Linked DNA regions of Homo sapiens. The protein of the gene in region 1 interacts with the protein of each later gene in a biochemical or structural test. Each region holds a gene or a part of one and is shown in the gene's direction. Other genes may lie near its edges.

Region 1 (7,110 bases):
ACCGTGCTGATACCTTGCCGTGCTGATACCTTACTGTGCTGGTACCTTGCATGAATCATCACCTCTCTTTGGGGTAGTTCTGCTGGGTGGCTCGGCATCGGTCCCTTCTGTGGGTGCCTCAGAAGGGTACAGGAGGGCCAGGTGACCTGTTAGTAATGGAGCGTTTGCTTCCTAGGTAAAGAAGCTCTCTGTGAGATTCTAGAGGAACCTGGTTACAGGGGATGCCTCTAGGAAGAGGGGGCTGGGGCAGGGGACAGAGATAGATTTACCTAGCTCCATTGTATACCACTTGAGAACTTTTACATTTTGTATCCTGTGAATGGTTACCAACTCAAAAGATAATTCTTTTTTGCTTGTTTGTTTGTTTGTTTTGGAGATGGAGTTTCGCTCTCGTTGTCCAGGCTGGAGTGTGATGGCTCAATCTCTTTGCAACCTCCGCCTCCTGGGATCAAACGATTCTCCTGCCTCAGCCTCCCAAGTAGCCAGGATTACAGGCATGTGCCACCATGCCCAGCTACTTTTTTGTAGTTAGTAAAGACGGGGCTTCACCATGTTGGTCAGGCTGGTCTCAACTCCTGACCTCAGGTGATCCACCCACCTCAGCCTCCCAAAGTGCTGGGATTACAGGCGTGAGCCACCGCGCCCAGCTCAAAAGATAATTCTAAAGTCAAGGGAGAACATCTTATCTACAGAAATGAAGCAAAGCACTGTCTCCATATTGTCATGTCAGGAATAAGCACACGGAGGCCCACCTAGATTCCCCTCTGGTGCATCCCTTTGGTGCACTCAGAGTCATGGTTTCCTCATCCATTGAAGAGCAGAGGTACTCCGGCCTCAGTGGCTACAAGAATCTAGTGACGATGGGACAATGTGTATAGAGCAGTCTCACACAGGGCCAGGCCCTGTGCCCAGGAAGTGTCTGTCATCTTCCTCCTCCCCATCTCATCCGGCCCTGCACCCCCCTCCTCTCCCACCCACGGTTTGAGTTTACCCATTCAGGACCCCCTCATGACTTTATGACTCCTGGTTTCTTCTCAGAGAAAGCCACAGATGGCTCCCTGCAGAGCGAGGACTGGGCCCTCAACATGGAGATCTGCGACATCATCAACGAGACGGAGGAAGGGTAAGGGCCCCCCAAGGAGAGGTTGGGGGCAGAGACGGCCATCCCACCACGCAGCACACTCCTGCACCCTTCCAGGGAGCCCCTGCCCCAGCCCCATTGCTGCCATAGCCACCAAGTCTGACCCAACCCGCTTGGCTGCAGAGGCCATCTGAGCCCCTAGTACCTGAGCCCCATCCAAGGTAGGAATTCACAGCTGGCCCCTGGGGGCTGCCACCCCACCCCGCCTCTCTTAGTGGCAGCCCAGATTCCACACGGATCTGGAAGCCCAGCCTTGTGTGCAGCATCTGCCTAGGATGAGGCAAGCTGGAGACTCTTAATCAGAAGTTGACCCCAAGCGCCATCTGCATTCTGCAGGCGGGAGTGTGTACTAGAGAGACTCCGGCTTTTCTGCGAGCAAAAACAGACTTCCATTTCCTTAAGATTTGAAACCAGCCTGGAGGGTAAGGGAGATCACAAGGATGGCAGGGAAAGTGAAGCTGAACCGTGAGCCTGAACAGCACTGGCGTTTGCCGGGCGTTTCTGGTGTTGGGGTCACGGTATCGTCTTGCTCAGTGCCAAGGAGCCCTGCCAAGGCACATGGTGTGGGGGAAGGATTGGGGTCTTGGCCTCCAATGTCTGACTCGTTGTCACTGACCAGCCGTGTGACCTTCGGAAGTCACTTTACCTCTCTAGGTCTTTGTCCTCGAAGGTGCTCTGTTAGATCCTTCCAGCAATAAGCCCGAGTCCCTGGAGGGAGCAGAAAGGGGATGCGAGGGTCCCTGTCCTCTCAGGAAAACCCAGCGAAGGCTGGGCAGAGGTGTGGGAGCCGTGGGCAGCAGGAAGTGCTGCCAGACGAGGCCTCCATCCTGAGAAATCAGTGTGGACCCTCCTTTCCCTCTCCAGTTCTCACTGGGATCATCCAGCTCTCCCGCGGCCAGTGCAGGGTTCCTCTCAGCCCGGGAGGGCTTTGCGTGGAGAGGCGCAGGCTGGATGCAGGTGGAGGGCAGGGAGTGCCCAGCTCTGAGCTGGAGGGAGGCTGTGGGCATCTGAGTCACACAGTCAAGGCCCAGTCAGGAGAGGGCAGTGGCTGCCAGGAACCTGCCGGTGTCTTCCTCAGCCCTGCTCCCTGATCTTGCCAAGGACTCATGAGAGTGAGGGTGAGGGAAGGAGTGGTGGGCAGAGGTCAGAAGAAAGAAAGCAGGAGGCAGAAAACCTCACCAAGCCTCTAGACAGGCCTGGGAGCTTCATGGACGTCGCAGCTGCAAGTCACTGCAGTATCCTTGGGGACAGCAAGCCCCCATGTCCCTTATAAACATGGGAGGAACAGGCTCGGCGTCGGTCAGGTGCATTGCTATTTATTTGAGCACTTTGTGTGTTCCAGGCAACACAGGAGGCACTAGGGACCCAGCAGTGATCAAAGGCAGGCATGACCCTTGACCTCACCAAGCATGGCACCTAAACTTAGCCTCGTTGCTAAAGTGTCTCCCCCACTGGGTTGTGGCCTCCTTGTCATACACTTTGTGCTCCCAGCAGAGTACCGGACATCATGGGCCCACAGCAGTGGCAAGGCCAGAACTTCCGATTCCCAGTGCTTCCCTCTAGGGAGAGAAGGCGTCCAACAAGGACGCTGTCCCTGCGCTCTAGGAGGCTTCTTCTCTCCCAGGGTGGGCCCCCAGGTCAGTGGCGCATGGCGGAACATGCCAGGGAATGATTCTGATTCCCTTGTGTCTAGGCCACCCTAGAAGAGGTGGAAAGAAGTCACTATAAAGCGCTGAAGTAGCCCGTGGGTCAGTGGCCAGGCCAAGACCAGGAGCCAGGGACGGGCGAGGGGCTGCCCAGGGAGGCAAGGGTTGGAAACTGCTCTCAGGCTTCTGGGCCAGGACCCCCCTTGGTGGGCCACCATCCCTTTCCCCACCGTGTCCCTTCCACCGCAGGCCTGACCGCCTCCATAGCTCTAGCCCCCAGGCAGGCTCTGTCCCTAGGAAGCCTTGCCTCTGCCTTCACTCCTGCTGAGAACCAGTGCCAGGGTTCCAGGCTCTCCTGCCTTAGTCCTGGATGGGGTCAGCACTGACAGCCAGGCAGACAGCCGGATGGGTCCCAGTGGCCACTGGCCAGGCTGAGAAATGTTACTTGTGCTTCAGTAGTGTGATGGGCTCTAGGAAGGGAAGCTGTCCAAAGAGAACACCATCCCTGCCCTCTAGCAAGCTTCTTCTCTACCCAGGGTGGGCCCCCAGTTCAATGTGGCATGGCAGAACAGGCCAGGGAGACTGGAGGACCTGGGAAAGTGTTGTGGAAGGGGTGGATTTTAGCTGAGGCTTCACCTCATGGATGTGGAGGTCAGGAGCCTTCAGGGTGCAAGTGGGGGCCCTGCACAAAGGCTTTTAGACAAGAGCAGTCAGGGCAGCACTGAGTATACCTGTATAGGGCCGAGGGTGGAGGATGGTGGGAATCACAGAGGGGACAGGGAGAGCAGGCTGGCACCCCAGCTTCCAGGGGCCTCCCAACACCGTGACCCCTAGGCTTCTTCAGCCCTCCCCGACCTCCCCCACACTCAGTGTGGCCTCCTCTTAGTTCCTCCAAGGCATCAAGCTCCTCTGCACCCAAGACCTTGGTCCAGGCTCTGACCTTGACCCAAACTGCTCTGCCCCCACTCCCCCCAGGTGGTCCTTCCCATCTTTCAAGGCCCAACTACAAGACCACCCCCTCGGAGGTCTTTTCTGACCACCCCCATCCTCACCTCTGCTCTTTTTCCAGGACCTGCTTATTCCTTGCTCTTCTTTGGATCTCCCCGCAAGGTGGGGAGGAGGCAGGGCCATATGGTCTTGTTTGCCACTGTGTCCCCAGCACCTAGCATGGTGCTACATACATATTGGGTGCTTAATAAGAGTTGAATGGGCCAGACATGGTGGCTCACACTGGTAGTCTCAGCGTTTTGGGAGGCTGAGGCAGGAGGATCACTTGAGCCCAGGAGTTCCGGGCTACAGCGAGCTGTGATTGCACCACTGCACTCCAGCCTGGGCGACAGAGTGAGACTCTGTCTCAGAAGGAAAAAAAAAAAAAACTTGAATGGAAGGGTAAATGGACAGATAGAGCAGCTGGCCAGGACGGGGCATCAGAACACTATGCTAGCTGGGCTCAGGGACTCATGCCTGTAATCACAACATATTGGGAGGCCGAGGTGGGAGAATCATTTGAGCCCAGGAGTTTGAGACCAGCCTGGGCAACATAGCAAGACCCCATCTCTATTTTTGTAATGAAAACATTATGCCTCCAGGTTATTTGTTCTTAAACTTGAGCATGCATAAGAAACCCTTGGGGAGCATGAGAAGCATTCAGATTCAGGGGCCCCACTCCCTGAGAATTTGGTTCAGGTGGTCTAGGGTGGGGACCTAGGGTTCTGCTTTTTTTTTTTGAATGTCCTTTGTTTTTTTGAGACAGGGTCTCACTCTGTCGCCCAGGCTGGAGTACAGTGGCGCAATCTCGGCTCTCACTCTGTTGCCCAGGCTGGAGTACAGTGGCGTAATCTCGGCTCACTGCAACCTCTGCCTCCTGGGTTCAAGCGATTCTCCCGCCTCAACCTCCCAAGTAGCTGGGATTACAGGGTCATACCACCACGCCCGGCAAATTTTTGTATTTTTAGTAGAGACAGGGTTTCACCATGTTGGCCAGGCTGGTCTTGAACTCCTGGCCTCAAGTGATCCACCTGCCTCAGCCTCCCAAAGTCCTGGGATTACAGGCATGAGCCACCGCGCCCGGCCAGGTTCTGCACTTTTAACAAAACGCTCTCATCTTTTCTCAAAGTGACTCTGCTGCTGGAGGTCCAGGGGCCACAGGTTGTGAGTCCCTGCTAAGCAATGGGCTAGGAAGATTCTGATGTGATCAGAACCTGGCTGGATACACAAAACAGGTGGGGCACAGGGAGGATGGGCCAATAAGAACTGTTCCAACTCTCCAGGGTCTCTGGTGTTAGGTAAGGGGGCTCTATTCCTAAGCCCACCCTTTTTCTTGTCCTCCTTAGTCCCAAAGATGCCCTCCGAGCAGTAAAGAAGAGAATCGTGGGGAATAAGAACTTCCACGAGGTGATGCTGGCTCTCACAGTGAGTGCCCCATCTGTCTGTCCTGTGGCAGGACTACGGTCCACTGAAAGTCACCTCCCCTCAGACCCAGCAGGACTCCCAGCCTCCTCTGAGCTCCTCATTTGAGAGCTGGAAAGGTCTGTAGGCAACGCACTGTCCTGTCTACACTGCAGGCGGATGCAGAATGGCAAGAGGCCATTTGGAAAGGTTCTCCCCAATCCCCCAGCATGGGAACAGACGCTTACATCACTCCAGAACCACTGGCAGGGAGAGCCTGGGCCAAAGGACCTGTGGGTGACATTGAAGCTCAGTAAACCCAGGCCTCCGCGGGGGCAGGGAGGCCGGCTGACTGAGTTGGGTGCTGCTCGGCACTTTGGTGCTCTGGCAAATGAATGTAAAATAAATACCAGTGGCTGAGAACAGTCTTGCCCACACCACTGAACCAGCCCAGATCTCAGGGCGGCCAGACACACGTGGGCCTCCTAGCCGTCAGCATGGGTTTGGCTGGGGAAGATATAAATGCTGTCCCACCCTCCTCCACAAGCAGCATTTATATCCAGGTGAATTGGCTTAAGCAAAAAGCAAAGGCAATTCCTGCAGTGGGAAGTGGAGAGTGGGGAGGGAAGTTCAGTGCCTTTTCCCTGGGCCACAGGCTCACCAGTCGATTGACATCTCAGATGCTCCTTGATTTCCTCTTGGAGAGCCCCTTCTCTCTAGACCATGTTTAGCTCAGAGACAGCATTGGGATTCTGCGTGCACTGACGCCAGTCAGGGAAGGAAGTCCAGCCCACACACCATACCTCTGCCCACCCTAGGCCGTGCCCTCCAGTAAACAAGTCCCCCAGTCCTGGCATTGTCCCAGTCCTCCACATTCAAGGGTCTCACTCCAGGAAGTCCCATCTCCTCTCCCGGGCCTCCTCTCTGGGACACAGGAGGAGCCACGAGGGTGGGGGTTCTGAGCACCTCCTCTCCTCTGACCAAGGTGCTCGACGGCACCTCTCGGCCCTCCAGGTCTTAGAAACCTGTGTCAAGAACTGCGGGCACCGCTTCCACGTGCTGGTGGCCAGCCAGGACTTCGTGGAGAGTGTGCTGGTGAGGACCATCCTGCCCAAGAACAACCCACCCACCATCGTGCATGACAAAGTGCTCAACCTCATCCAGGTGAGTGCCAGGACAGGGCAGGGCACGGCCAGGAAGAGCTGTCAGTGCAGGAGCTTCCTGCCCAGTGGAGAGTCGAGGCCATCGTGTTTGTCCCAGGCTCCGCTTCTCATTTCGGGGCGTCTCGGTTGTCGGCTGGTGGGATGTTCTGTGGGGAGGGAGGCTTGCCAACTGCGTGCTTTGCTGTGGAGTGGGCAGGGCAGATGTAGTTAAAAAAAAAAAAAAAGCAGGGAAAGAATGTCTGTTCTCTGTCTGAGTGCCAGGTGGGCAGGCTCACAGGTGAGCTGTGGTTACCGGCTGTGTCCCCTTGTCCCCTCTCAGTCCTGGGCTGACGCGTTCCGCAGCTCGCCCGATCTGACAGGTGTGGTCACCATCTATGAGGACCTGCGGAGGAAAGGCCTGGAGTTCCCCATGACTGACCTGGACATGCTGTCACCCATCCACACACCCCAGAGGGTGAGAGAACTGCCGTACCGGGAACCAAGGGAAGGGAGGCAGGACTCATCCCCAGAGACATCACCAGGCTGGCCCCTGACTTCCTGGGCTCTTGATGTTCCCAGGAGCCCTCACTGATCCTGTTTTCCTCCCACTAGACCGTGTTCAACTCAGAGACACAATCAGGACAGGATTCTGTGGGCACTGACTCCAGCCAGCAAGAGGACTCTGGCCAGCATGCTGCCCCTCTGCCCGCCCCGCCCATACTCTCCGGTGACACGCCCATAGCACCAACCCCGGAACAGGTAAACGAGCCTGGGGTCAGAACCGTCAGGTCCA
Region 2 (7,110 bases), on another chromosome or scaffold:
AATTTTTGTATTTTTAGTAGAGACGAGGTTTCACCGTGTTGGCCAGGCTGGTCTCAAACTCCTGACCTCAAGTTATCTGCCCATCTCGGCCTCCCAAAGTGCTGGTTATTACAGGAGTGAGCCACCGTGCCTGGCCCAGATTTTACCTTTTTTAAATGTCAGTTTAAGAGACTGGTTCTCACACTTTCAGCTTCAGGACCCCTTTATACTCTTATTGAGAACCCTAAAGTGCTATAGATTTCGTGGGTTGTACCTATTGATAATTACTATATTAAAATTAAAATTCAGAAATTTAAAAAATATTTATTAACTAATTACAAAATAAGGCTATTACATTAGCAGAAATAATATTTTATGAAAAATTTTTTTCAGAACAAAAGTTTAGTGAGAATAATGGCATTATTTTACATTTTTGCCAATTTCTTTAATGTCTGGCTTAATAGAAGACAAACATATTCTCACATCTGGTTCTACATTCTGTGTGTTTTGATATGTTATTTTTTTTGTTAAATTATATGAAAAAAATTCTAGGACCTCACCAATTCCCTGAAAGTGTCTTGGGGACCCCAGGGATCTCTGAACCACATTTTGAGAACCAGTGGTATGGGGAAATGTAACTGAGATTTAGTAATTTAATTTATACTAATATCTATTTAGTTATTTTCAAACATTCAAGAAAGTATGTGATGGTGATATTTATGCTTACATTTACACAAATGTGCTAGGTGTTAAACAGAAGATATATAATATAGAATCCAGATCACTAAGAATTCTCATTGTAAAGTGGCACATACTCATAGAAGCAACTATTAATGTATGAATTAGTAATGTTTTATGCATTAAATAGATTTATTGAGCATCACTTTGTGCCAGTCACCTGGTCGATTCTGGGTACGTATATTAGAAAAGATGGATACTAGGCCTGGCGCGGTGGCTCATGCCTGTAATCCCAGCACTTTGGGAGGCCGAGGTGGGCGGATCATCTGAGGTCAGGAGTTCAAGACCGCCTGACCAACATGGCAAAACCCCGTCTCTACTAAAAAAAATACAAAAATTAGCCAGGTATTGTGGCGCATGCCTGTAGTCTCAGCTACTAGGGGAGACGGAGGCAGGAGAAAATCACTTGAACCCAGGAGGCAGAGGTTGCAGTGAGCCAGGATTGCGCCAATGTACTGCAGCCTGGACAACAGGGTGAGACTCCATCTCAAAAAAAAAAAAAAAAAAAAAAAAGAGAGAAAAGATGAATATTTATCAGCTCTGTTGAAATTTACATTTGGTAGAAACATATGCTGTTTGTCAAGAGTTCATGAGCTAGACTTTACAAATAGCCGTAATTACCATGGGTATGTTTCCTAGCTAGCACGCACTGTCAATCTGTATTAATGAAAATTCTCAACAGGCTAGTAAATATTGAGTTCATAAATGGTTCTTATTTAATACTGACTTTGTACAGTCTAAAAAGAAAAAGGCTTTATTGAAATAGTCTTTATGGGTAGTTTTTTCCAGGTGGTTACTCTTGTGGAATATAGCTAACGCACTGCTTCCTAACCACTCCCCTCCCCTTCTTCCTGCCTTGTCCCTCCTCCCTGCCTACCCAAGGGTTTTTGGCTATCATAAGAAGGGGAGAGACTTGGATTGAACTAAGCTTGCTCACTGTGTGATATGGTATGGGATCTTGAAGTTCTTCTTGCCTCATTTTTTCCAATCTTAATATTAAGTCATTAATACCTGCCTGAGCATGCAGTAAAACTAAAACCTTATGCTTCTTAATTCCTTATGCTCCTGAATTTGAAGAATCAAAATGGTACTGTTTCTTGGGAAATTTGACTTTAAGAGAATTTCTGAACGCATTTTGGTTTTTATTTATTCTTATTAAAAAGATATGTTTGGCTATAGTGATCTCATTTCATAGTTGAACAGAGAATATGAACTGATTTGTTATTTTTTTTATTACATATTTTACAGACAGTAAACACAGTGGATCATTCCCATTCTACTACAGTGGAAAAGCCAAACAATGAGACAGGAGATATTACAAGAAATGAGATAATTCAGAGTCCTATTTCTCAGGTTCCATCAGTGGAAAAATTGTCTATGAACACAGGAAATGAGGGGTTACCTACTTCTGGTTCATTTACACTAGATGATGATGTTTTTGCAGAAACTGAAGAACCATCTAGTCCTACTGGTGTCTTAGTTAACAGCAATTTACCTATTGCTAGTATTTCAGATTATAGGTTACTGTGTGATATTAACAAGTATGTCTGCAATAAGATTAGTCTTCTACCTAATGATGAGGACAGTTTGCCCCCACTTCTGGTTGCATCTGGAGAAAAGGGATCAGGTAGGGAAGCAGTTATTTAAATTTAAAAAGATTTAAAAATATATACTGATGAATTTTATCTGTGACATATGAAATGTATTTTTTTAACTTAGTTTGGTTGCAATATGTACTAAGGCTGGTAACTTTTGTTTACAGAAAGTCTTATTATATAAAAACAAATTCTAAAAATATTTGAACTTTTATGATCCATTTATCACATCTGGCCCACTAATTTCGAATGATTAAGTCTATGAGGGAAGCTCATAGACTTTTAGCCCGAAGAAATATTTCCATTGTATTAGAATTTTGACACTGTATTATTACTATTTTTTTTTAGGAGCATGATACCTAAAGAAAAGAGCATTAGATTGGATGGCAAAGCTAGGAATTTTAGTTCCTTGTCTGCTACTTTTTACATCTATGACTTGTAGTGTGTTAATCTCCTTGGGCCCCAGTTTCCTTTGTAAATAGAACCTAGATGATTTCTAAGGTCCTTTTCAAGCAGGAGATTCTATGGCTAACCCCCACCCCAGAGTGGTTTCTAGGATAGACACTTGTCACTCCAGGCATTATGTCACATTCTGCAATATGAAATGGCGGTTCTCTGCGTGATAATGTAGAGGAATGAAGCTTTGGATTTCTGTTCTGTCAGTGGGAGCCATTACATGAACCTAGCTGTAGTGGCAAAAATATAGTAAGCCCTATTCTTTGTATGCCATGCATATCTTTCTATTGATTGTCAAGATCTTTTTTTTTTTGCTACCTGGTCACTGATATAGGCATATGGTAGCAAGTAGCTGATATAGGCATGTGGTAACAAGCAGCATATATAACGTGGCTCTAGACTACTTTCATAGACTTGTAAATATCAAAAATTATAAATGGAGTGCTTACCAAACTGGAATCTACTTTATAAAAACGTTTGTCTTCAAACTTTGAAGGTGCTAAAATTATATACATTTGCTGTTTAATCAACAGTATAAATATACTATATGTAATATATGCATTACAGTATTAGTAACTTTACATGGAAAGAGGTAAAAATTAGTATATAACAGTTGTCTGGGGTGTTGATTTTATGAAACATGTTTGCTTCTGTTTTTAAATTTGATCAGGCCACTGGTGGATTTATAAATTTGTTTTTTTCATTTGTAAGCATATTTAACAGGATATTTATCCTGATTAATATATTACTTTCATCATTTAGTGCCTGTAGTAGAAGAACATCCATCTCATGAGCAGATCATTTTGCTTCTTGAAGGTGAAAGCTTTCATCCTGTTACATTTGTCCTAAATGCTAATCTACTCGTGAATGTCAAATTCATATTTTGTAAGTAATAATTTATCCTTATTTGCTTAATTGGTAAGCAGGATTTCTGAATTAATTACATCTTCAGGTTAGATTTTGACTGGCCATGGTGAAAAATAAGCAGGATTGGATATTGGTTTTTCAGCCACATATGACTGTAAATAAATTTTGCAAATTTATGTTCAGTAGGACTTGAAACATGAGCTTACAGATTTTTATTAGCATCCCTGTCAATCTTAGGTTAAGGTCATGGGCTTATATAACTGAGCTGTATTTTGATACTCATGATACAATTGACTATATTTCCTGTGGCTTTTAGATAAATTGAAATTTGGTAACTGAAATAAGCAGGAACCCTGATTTAGTAGCAATAAAGACAGTTTTAAAGTAAGTGACATGTGACCTAATTAAAAAGGAAGTAATCATTAATAATTAATAATCCTCACTACTCCATAATGTATCTGTCAGCTTTTCATTCTATTTGAAACTAAATTCTTATCCACTACATTTCAGCATTTAGTGCATCTTTTATTTTAGTGTTATTTATTAATTGGCTCCCTATGATAATCCTTTTTCTTACTTTATATAAATCTTATACAATTCAATTTAAGGTTTTCATAAGGAGAACTTTGGGAACACAAGGAATTTGAAAAGTTATGTTAAATGCAAAAACAATTGTTCTTAGTTTTTTGACTAATAGAAGTTGACATTAATAGTTATATTCTTTTATCATCTAAGATTCCTCAGACAAATATTGGTACTTTTCAACCAATGGATTGCATGGCTTGGGACAGGCAGAAATTATTATTCTATTGTTATGTTTGCCAAATGAAGATACTATTCCTAAGGACATCTTCAGACTATTTATCACCATATATAAGGATGCTCTAAAAGGTATGGCATTTTATTTTGAACTGTTCAGACTGGGGAATGGATAAATTAGTTAAAGGCATTTATGGTTTTGGCTGTGCTAGCTATACTAAAGATTTATTTCTGTGAAGAGATTGCTGATTTCTGAAAATAGCTTAATAATTATTTTGTCTCCTTAAAACTAGCATTTTATGTGATTAGTGTCTATGCAGATTTTTGTATTTTAAAAATGGAAATATATCCTTATATCCATTTTTTTTTTTTTTTTTTTTTTGAGACAGTGTCTCCACCCCGGCTGGAGTGCAGTGGCACAATCTTGGTTCACTGCAACCTCTGCTTCCCGGGTTCAAGCGATTCTTCTGCCTCTGCCTCTCAGGTAGTTGGGATTACAGGCACATGCCATCATGCCCAGCTAATTTTTGTATTTTTAGTAGAGGCAAGGTTTCACCATGCTGGCCAGGCTGGTCTAGAACTTCTGACCTCAAGTGATCCGCCCGCCTCAGTCTCCCAAAGTGCTGGGATTACAGGCATGAGCCACTGTGCCTGGCCTGCCTCCTTGATTTTTCAGTGTATCTATGTAATTTCCTTACTGTCTGTACAAGACTAGGAGATTTGATAATTTTTCACTTGACCATGCCGTAAGGAGAAAAATTGGAAGGTTGGAAACATTTTCAAATTTTTGTTCATAATCCCCAATATCTAGGAATAACTGGGAGCTTTGTGTACAGAAGGTATTTAATAGATGCTTTTGCAAGAACAGAAATAAGAAAAAAAATCTATAGTGTCTTAACTTCAGACAGTTTATATTGGGACAGTTTATATGTATTGGATCAGTTTTTTGGATTTTGGACAAACTAAGAACATTTCTTCAAAACAATAACAAAACAACTTAAAATCTTTTTACTAATGATTTTATTTGCAGGAAAATACATAGAAAACTTGGACAATATTACCTTTACTGAGAGTTTTCTCAGTAGCAAGGATCACGGAGGATTCCTGTTTATTACACCTACTTTTCAGAAACTTGATGATCTCTCATTACCAAGTAATCCTTTTCTTTGTGGAATTCTTATCCAGAAGCTTGAGATTCCCTGGGCAAAGGTTTTTCCTATGCGTTTAATGTTGAGATTGGGTGCAGAATATAAAGGTAAGTTTTAGAGTAATAAGTTAAATTGCATATTTTCAAATATACTGAATGTAAAGACTTTCAGGGAATCATTAAAATCAATTTTAATGGATTAATGGAACTACTTTTGTTTTGCTATGCTTTTAAAGTTCTAAGACAACCCTCTTCTACTACCAGGTTGGTCTAGATAACTGTGGTATGTCTTCAAGTTTCTAGATGTTCATAAGTTCTTTTATTACCTAAAACTTTTCTTCTTAAATTTCAGAACAAAACAGAAAACTTTCACAGTGCAGGTTGAGTATGCCATATCTGAAATGTATTGGATCAGTTTTTTGGATTTTGGACTTTTTCAGATTTTGGAATATTCACAGAGTACATACCAGTTGAGCATCCCAAATTCAAAATCTGAAATGCTCCAGTGAGCATTTCTTTTGAGCATCACGTTGGCATTTGAAAAAGTTATAGACCGGGCATGGTGGCTCACGCCTGTACTCCCAGCACTTTGGGAGGCCAAGGCGGGCAGATCACATGAGGTCAGGAGTTCGAGACCAGCCTGGCCAACATGGTGAAACCCTGTCTCTACTAAAAATACAAAAATTAGCTGGGTGAGGTGGCAGGCGCCTGTAATTGCAGCTACTCAGGAGGCTGAGGCAGGAGAATCACCTGAACCCAGGAGGCAGATTTGCAGTGAGCTAAGATCATGCCTCTGCATTCCAGCCAGGGTGACAGAGCAAGACTACGTCTCAAAAAAAAAAAAAAAAAAAAAAAAAAAGTTACAGATTTCAGAGCATTTTGGATTTCAGGTTTTTAGATTTGGGATGTTCGATATGTGTTAATTACTTTTGCTAAAATTTTCTTAAAAGCATATACTATTGGGAGTTTGTTATGTTGCCTGCATATTAAGAAGATAAATCGTTGCGTCTCTCAATTTTTCTATATCATAAAGCCAGACATAAAGGATTTTTGGGTTAGCAGTGCTATTGTTTTCAGTTACTCACTATAATTAAAAGCTAACTATTTTTAGGGAAGGAAGTACTTAAAAATTGTGGTTATTTTTCTAAGCTTGATGATTCTTATTTTTATATTCTGATGTTTGTCTCTCAAAGGTGATAGAGCCTGTATCATTCATGTGTATGTACGTGTGTGTATTTACTTATCTACCCTTGACACAACTGGTGATTCTAAAGCTGCTGTGATGTTTATATATATGCTTATTTCTGAGTTAGAATCATTTCTAGTGTTAAACTTTTTTGAATTCCCACTGTATCTTTTATCTGACTTTTTTCAAGAAATAATATATTTATTGCATTTGAAGTATATCACGTCTAATGAACTTTTTAGACATTTGATTCTAATATAATTTGGTAGGGATTTTCTTGGAGGAAAATTAAATGTTGAGAAGCTATAAAAGTGGTGATTACTATTTCAGAATAGACAAATTGAGAGAAAGAGAGAATCTATTTGGAAATTTTATTAAACTGT
Region 3 (7,110 bases), on another chromosome or scaffold:
TATTTATGTCCCTGGAAGAAATTTTCCAGTCCCATCTATGCTGATGGGCCTGCTGAGTATAGACTCAGGAAAGCTGCCCCACTGCTACAGCCTTTTGGGAATGACTGAATGACTTTCTCTGTGCCATGTTTTCAGGCCATCTTGGCAGCAGGCAGCATGATGCAGACCCACGGGGACTTTGATGTTGCCCTCACCAAATACAGAGTTGTGGCTTGTGCTGTTCCAGAAAGTCCTCCACTCTGGAATAACATTGGAATGTGTTTCTTTGGCAAGAAGAAATATGTGGCGGTGAGTGTCCCCTCATGTTCTTTGTTTGTATTTCTACATGTGGTTATTGGGTCTGTTTAGCTTGCCCTTCTCATTGAGTGCCCCTTCTCTCTCATAGGCCATCAGCTGCCTGAAACGAGCCAACTACTTGGCACCCTTTGATTGGAAGATTCTGTATAATTTGGGCCTTGTCCATTTGACCATGCAGCAGTATGCATCAGCTTTTCATTTTCTCAGTGCGGCCATCAACTTCCAGCCAAAGATGGGGGAGCTCTACATGCTCTTGGCAGGTAAGAAACATTTATGTGGAAAACTCTCTCTGCCATCTGTAATGAGGGAAAAATGGATTAGAATCATAGAAGATCAGTGGCTGTCTCATAGGAGCCATTCCCTTAGAGATCCTGTAGGAATCTGGATTACTGTCCTGGAGCTTGAAGAAATAGAAAAAGATGACAAAGGAACTTGGTTGTTTCTAACTTGGGGGAGTTTGACTCAGAGACCAACAGGTTAAATAAAGATCATCCCTAGTTCACCTTTTACCAGTTTTTTCCTCTTGCCTTGACAATTCATTTATGTATATATTGAGTCCAACTAAGTTCCAGACAGCAAGTGTTAAGAGCTTGGGTTTTAGGTAGGGTCCTGCCTCTACTACTTATTATATGTACCTAGGGCTGATGTGAGGATTGCATGATTAAGCTCTCAATTAATAATACTGGTTTTGTTGAAATACTGATTTTTGAAAACTGTTGGTTTTACTGTGGTTATATAATTGGTCTATTATTATCAATATTGTTGTTACTATAATTGGCCCCTAGGTGATACTTCCAAGTCAAGCTACCTTATGTTGAAACCCTTATCTCTTCTGAGCATGTTATATAGAATGCCATTCTCTTCCTGAAACTCCATTTTATGCCATGCAAATACTAAAATTGATCATAAAAATAAGTTAAAATTAATCAAACACTTTAACAATTATGCACAACCATTTTAAAGTACTGACTAGTCTTTCTAGGAATTTTTTTCTCCATATACATTTACTTACTAAATGTAAGACCCAAAGCAGATTTCCATGTCCTCATTTGGCAGTCGTCTTCCAGTGGCTTTTTGTTCATTACTGTGGGTTCTTATTTAAAAGAGAAAGCTTGCAAAAGCAATTGTGGTTATTTGAGGGTTGCCTGAATACAAAGATAACTTTAAAAAAAAAACATAGGTTTTATTATTATTCAGATATGGTATGGGCAACAGATCAGAAGACATCTGCCACTGGAAAGATAGTCTGTTACAATTCCTGAGAAGGAGGGCATGCTACACCGTGCAGGGCCACATGGGGAAGCACCAGGTCAATCAGGAGGTAGAGGGAGCAAGGGGTAAATGTGGGCACAATTCTTTATTGTAGTTTTCATGGGTAGAAATGCCCTCCCCGGGGCAAGACCGGGAAAGCAGGTTAACCAGGTTGGGGATTGGCCAGTTTGAATAATTTCAGTGGGCTCTGGGCTATAGGGCTGTCTCTAGGTGTCTGGTACCTGACCCTCGGGTGACTAGGACTAGGGAATATTGGCCCAGTGTCAGGGCCCAGTAAAGGAGGCAGTTAAGAATATGAACACTGGGTTGGTCGGTCTGCATACAGAAGGTACTCTTGTAGGGGTTATATCTAGGAATTAGCTGACTGTGGGAGGGACAGTCTCCCCAGGGTCAGTAAGGCCCCAGATGTCAAAACATCAGAATAAAAAGGCTAAAGTGGGGTGTGATGGTACATACCTGTAGTGCTGGCTACTTGGGAGGCTAAGGCAGGAAGTTTGCTTAAGCCCAGGAGTTGGGAGTACAGCCTGGGCAACACAGTGAGACTCCATTCCTCTCTCTTTTTTTAAAAATTTTATTTTAGGTTCAGGGGTACATGTGCATCCTGTTACACAGGCACGTGTGTCATGGGGATTAGTTGTACAGATTATTTCATCACCCAGGTACTAAGCCTAGTACCCAATAGTTATTTTTTTCTGGCCCTCCCCCTCCTCCAGTAAGCTCCAGTGTCTGTTTCCCTCTGTGTCTCCATGTGTTCTCATCATTTAGCTCTTATAGTGAGAACATGCAGGATTTGGTTTTCTATCCTTTATTAATTTGCTAAGGATGGTGGCCTCCAGCTCCATCTATGTTGCTGCAAAGGACACGATCTTGTTCTTTTGTATGGCTGTGTCGTATTCCATGGTGTACATTTACATTTTGTTTATCCAGTCTACCATTGATGGGCATTTAGGTTGATTTCACATCTTTGCTATTGTGAATAGTGCTGCATTGAACACACACATGCATGTGTCTTTATGGCAGAACGATTTACATTCCTTTGGGCATATACCCAGTAATGGGATTGCTGGGTCGAAGGGTAGTTGTATTTTTAGCTCTTTGGGGAATTGCCAGATTGCTTTCCACAATGGTTGAACTAATTTACACTCCCATCAACAGTGTATAAGCATTCCCTTTTCTCTGCAGCCTCACCAGGATGTTATATTTTGAGTTTTTAATAATAGCCATTTTGACTGGTGTGAGATGGTTATCTCACTGTGGTTTCAATTTGCATTTCTCTAATCAGTGATAGAGTTTTTCATATGCTTGTTGGCTGCATACATGACTTCTTTTGAAGTGTCTGTTTATGTCCTTTGCCCATTTTAATGGGATTGTATTCTTCTTGTAAATTTGCTTAAGTTCCTTATAGATCCTGGATATTAGACCTGCATGGTTTGCAAATATTTTCTCCCATTTTGTACATTGTCTGTTTACTGTGTTGATAGTTTCTTTAGATAGCTGGGTTCTAATGGAACACAGAAATGTAAACAGCCATAATGTAAGAGATAACAGCGATGCTAACTTTACAAAGTAGAGATGGCATTCAAACTGGATCCTGAACAACAAGCTAAAATGGAATAGCACAGAATGGCTGAGGAGCCACTGTGAAGAAAGGCATGCAGCCATGAAACTGCAGTGTCCCTTGCTGTTAGTGGGGGTTAGTGTTAGAGAATATGATGGGAGATGAATCAGGAAAGATATTCTGGGGTCAGATTATGGAGGTCATGCGTACAGTGCAAGGACTTTATCTTAGAGGCCATGTTTGTCCAGCTGTCTTCCTAGATCTCCTCTTAGGTGCCTGGTAGGAGTGAGTGCATAGCTGGTGGGGAGGTGGAATGGGCAGGGCTTCCAGAGCAGCTGTTTTTGTTTTATATATTAGGTGTCAAGGAAATACTGATTTTAAAAAGTGGGGGGAGTGTTTTACTGCTAAATGAAAGTGTAAAGATCATGGTTATAGATGTGGGGGGCCAGTGAGGATTCCTAAGTAGGATGGTAATGTGGTCAGATTTGTAAGGCAGTGAGATACCTGGCAGCGCTGTGGAAGGTGGAATGGAGGCAGGTGGGGACTTTGACACTGGGGAATAAATGGAAAGCCTAAAACTACTTGGGCCTGAACAAGGGCAGTGTCAGAAAAGAAACTGCAAAAAAAGGATGCATAGAACCTGGCAACTGATTGACTGTAGAAGAGATGGTTGAAGATAGCACCAGGTATCTAAGCTGACTTAGTAAACTCTGGTGCCATGAGCTGACAGGGTGAAGTTTACTTTGGGGGTAGTCTTTAATACTCCTTTTGTCTTCTAAGCTGAGCTCTCCAGCTGCAGTGCTTTCTTTGTTGCAGTGGCTCTGACCAATCTGGAAGATATAGAAAATGCCAAGAGAGCCTACGCAGAAGCAGTCCACCTGGATAAGTATGCACTTTGTTGAGAATGGTACTGGCGGGGGTTGGACTCTCCAAAGCCATGAGGTGGTGCCATACATAGCATTGGTGCTGCCTGTGTCAGCCCAGCTGTTCCTCTATGGCATTAGTACATAGCAGACCTCAGTGTGGAGGGATGTGTCTCCTAAGTATGTGGTGGCTCAGCAGGAATTGACACTCTGAGAAAATGTTTCCAGTCCTAAACTGAGTAATCAGGAGGCTAGAGAATGTCAGAACTGGCAGTGGGCTTGGGTTGCTGATAGCTATGGGCTAGCTGGAATATCAGATGGGACTCTGGGCTGTTTAATTCAAGATAAAACTTGACTCTTCCAGGATTTACTCCGCTGGCATCTTCTAGACAGCAGGGTAGAGATCCCTTTTTCAACCCTGGCCTAGGTAGTCTCTGTTGAGGGCTGAGATGCCAGATTTGGTCCCAATACCAGCTTTGCTTGTTAGGCCATTAACTCCTTGATTCTTCTCCACAGGTCTGCTTAGCACGTATGTACCTACCTTGCTGCATAATGGAGAAATCTCTACTTAACCAGTTTTGTTTTGTTTTTGTGTAATGAGAAGGATCTCTAAATGACCATTTGTTGCAGAGCCCCCAGCTCCATAGAATCTCTGTCTGCCACAGGTGTAACCCTTTAGTAAACCTGAACTATGCTGTGCTGCTGTACAACCAGGGCGAGAAGAAGAACGCCCTGGCCCAATATCAGGAGATGGAGAAGAAAGTCAGCCTACTCAAGGACAATAGCTCTCTGGAATTTGACTCTGAGGTATGTCTTTTATTAGCTCCCAAGAGTCATAAGTAAGCTCTCAGGAGACTTTTAAAAATCAAGCCCAGATCATCCAAATCCAAGGTATTACACGTTCATGGCTGTTCTGGCTTTGATGTTCCTAGCAGCATGAGTTCATCAATTAATAACAGCCTGAGAAAAACTTTCCTAGAATAATAATAAAAGGAAATTCAGGCTTACTGAGTTGTTATTGCTAATTCAACTCATCAAAGTTGAGGTCTGTGTCTGTCTGTAGCTTCCTTCTATTTCACTTTTTTTTTTTTTTTTTTTTTGAGACGGAATCTCGCTCTGTTGCCCAGGCTGGAGTGCAATGGCGCAATCTCAGTTCACTGCAACCTCCGCCTCCTGGGTTCAAGCAATTCTCCTGCCTCAGCCTTCCAAGTAGCTGGGACTACAGGCGCGTGCCACCACGCCCAGCTAATTTTTGTATTTTTAGTAGAGACGGGGTTTCACCATGTTGGCCAGGATGGTCTTGATCTCTTGACCTCGTGATCCACGTGCCCAGCCCTATTTCACTTGTTGTAGGAAATGCACTGTTTGGCCCGGTAATGCACCAGGCTTGAATTGTTGGGTTTTGAGATCCTATGTGAACCACCATGCCATCCAGTAAAGGCAATCTGTAATCTCTACTGTTTGATAAGTACTTCCTGCCTCAACTGCTAGTACGACCAGACACTATTTCAGCTAAAACCCCAGCTCGAAGACCAAAGAAGTGGGTTGGCTTGTCTCTGACAGTCACGCTTTTGATTCTTTTACTTCCTTTGTGGACACAAGATGGTGGAGATGGCTCAGAAGTTGGGAGCTGCTCTCCAGGTTGGGGAGGCACTGGTCTGGACCAAACCAGTTAAAGATCCCAAATCAAAGCACCAGACCACTTCAACCAGCAAACCTGCCAGTTTCCAGCAGCCTCTGGGCTCTAATCAAGCTCTAGGACAGGCAATGTCTTCAGCAGCTGCATACAGGACGCTCCCCTCAGGTAGGACCATACAGAGCTCCATGAAGACCTGGCAGGTACAAGCCACATGTGTCTGTCAGCAGAGATTATAGCTTTCAGTGAGGTTCTCTTCAGACTCATATGTCCAACGTAGTATTGGCCACAAGGGGAGAAAAAAAACACAGGGTGGCTAAATTGGCACTTGTTTCCTTAAGGCGAGCTATGTAGTAGGTAACAGCTACTCACAGACTTAGTTGGATGGTCTATACACTGGTCTTTCCAATTTTAGCAATATGTTATTAAGTATATCCTGTTATGCAATGTTTAATTTTTACTGCTTTATCAGAAGTTGACACGTAAATATTTTTCAGTGACTCATTGAAGGCAAACTTGACTGTTGCTTTATTTCTCAGTTATAGTCTTCCCTTATAGTTAATGGGTCAGTCCCACTGGTTCCAGAAAATATGGGGTTTCCTCTTGAACTCTAACAGCAAAAAAGAATGATTTCTTCTGAAATTGTGGAACATGAGGATTCAAGTTTTTATTTTGTTACTAGGTGCTGGAGGAACATCCCAGTTCACAAAGCCCCCATCTCTTCCTCTGGAGCCAGAGCCTGCGGTGGAATCAAGTCCAACTGAAACATCAGAACAAATAAGAGAGAAATAAGAATAGAATGAATGACCCCAAAATAGGGTTTTCTTGGGCGAGGATGTGCTGGATTAGGAAAGGTGACATGACACAGGCAGAGCAGAGTGGCACCCACCACAGAATACAGTGTGTGTTATTACGAGGAGCCAGCAGTTGAGCCTAAGGTCCTTCTACCTACCTGGTATTGGCATTTGAGGTCGGAAACCCTCTACTGCCCCATAAGCCAGGAAAAGTGAAAAGAGAACACAGTTCCTTTAAGAACTGGCAGCAAGGCTTGAGGCCTTATGTATGTAGCTGAGTCAGCAAGGTACATGATGCTGTCTGCTTTCAAAAGGACTTTTCTCTCCTAGCTGACTGACTCCTTCCTTAGTTCAAGGAACAGCTGAGACAGACCTCTGCTGAGTAGCTCTGTGATGACAAAGCCTTGGTTTAACTGAGGTGATCCTCAGGTTGTGAGGTTTATTAGTCCCCAAGGCAAACACAAATATTAGATTAATAATCCAACTTTAATAGTATACATTTAAAAGAAAAAAAACAAAAGCCCTGGAAGTTGAGGCCAAGCCTGCTGAGTATTGCAGCTGCATTTGCCCAAAGGGAATCCAGAACAAGTCCCTCCCTGTATTTTGTTCTTGAGAGGGGTCAGTCTAGAAGCTAGATCCTATCAGGATGAGGAGCAGCAGCCCAGGGCTTGTCTGGATCAGCACCAACGA

The links.
Region 2: the proteins of TOM1 (region 1) and ZFYVE16 form a complex in vitro, tested with the Homo sapiens proteins (one study listed by BioGRID).
Region 3: the proteins of TOM1 (region 1) and BBS4 form a complex in vitro, tested with the Homo sapiens proteins (one study listed by BioGRID).

The regions. Positions count from the first base shown.
Region 1 is NC_000022.11:35,316,839-35,323,948, forward strand, and holds part of TOM1 (target of Myb1 membrane trafficking protein), read left to right. Parts: intron 1-1,038; coding exon 1,039-1,123; intron 1,124-4,903; exon of another isoform or gene 4,904-5,009; intron 5,010-5,120; coding exon 5,121-5,199; intron 5,200-6,160; exon of another isoform or gene 6,161-6,189; coding exon 6,190-6,339; intron 6,340-6,657; coding exon 6,658-6,792; intron 6,793-6,929; coding exon 6,930-7,076; intron 7,077-7,110.
Region 2 is NC_000005.10:80,446,061-80,453,170, forward strand, and holds part of ZFYVE16 (zinc finger FYVE domain-containing protein 16), read left to right. Parts: intron 1-1,965; coding exon 1,966-2,344; intron 2,345-3,530; coding exon 3,531-3,653; intron 3,654-4,370; coding exon 4,371-4,526; intron 4,527-5,424; coding exon 5,425-5,649; intron 5,650-7,110.
Region 3 is NC_000015.10:72,731,170-72,738,279, forward strand, and holds part of BBS4 (BBSome complex member BBS4), read left to right. Parts: intron 1-135; coding exon 136-288; intron 289-385; coding exon 386-557; intron 558-3,943; coding exon 3,944-4,013; intron 4,014-4,655; coding exon 4,656-4,797; intron 4,798-5,592; coding exon 5,593-5,794; intron 5,795-6,308; coding exon 6,309-6,418; 3' UTR 6,419-7,110.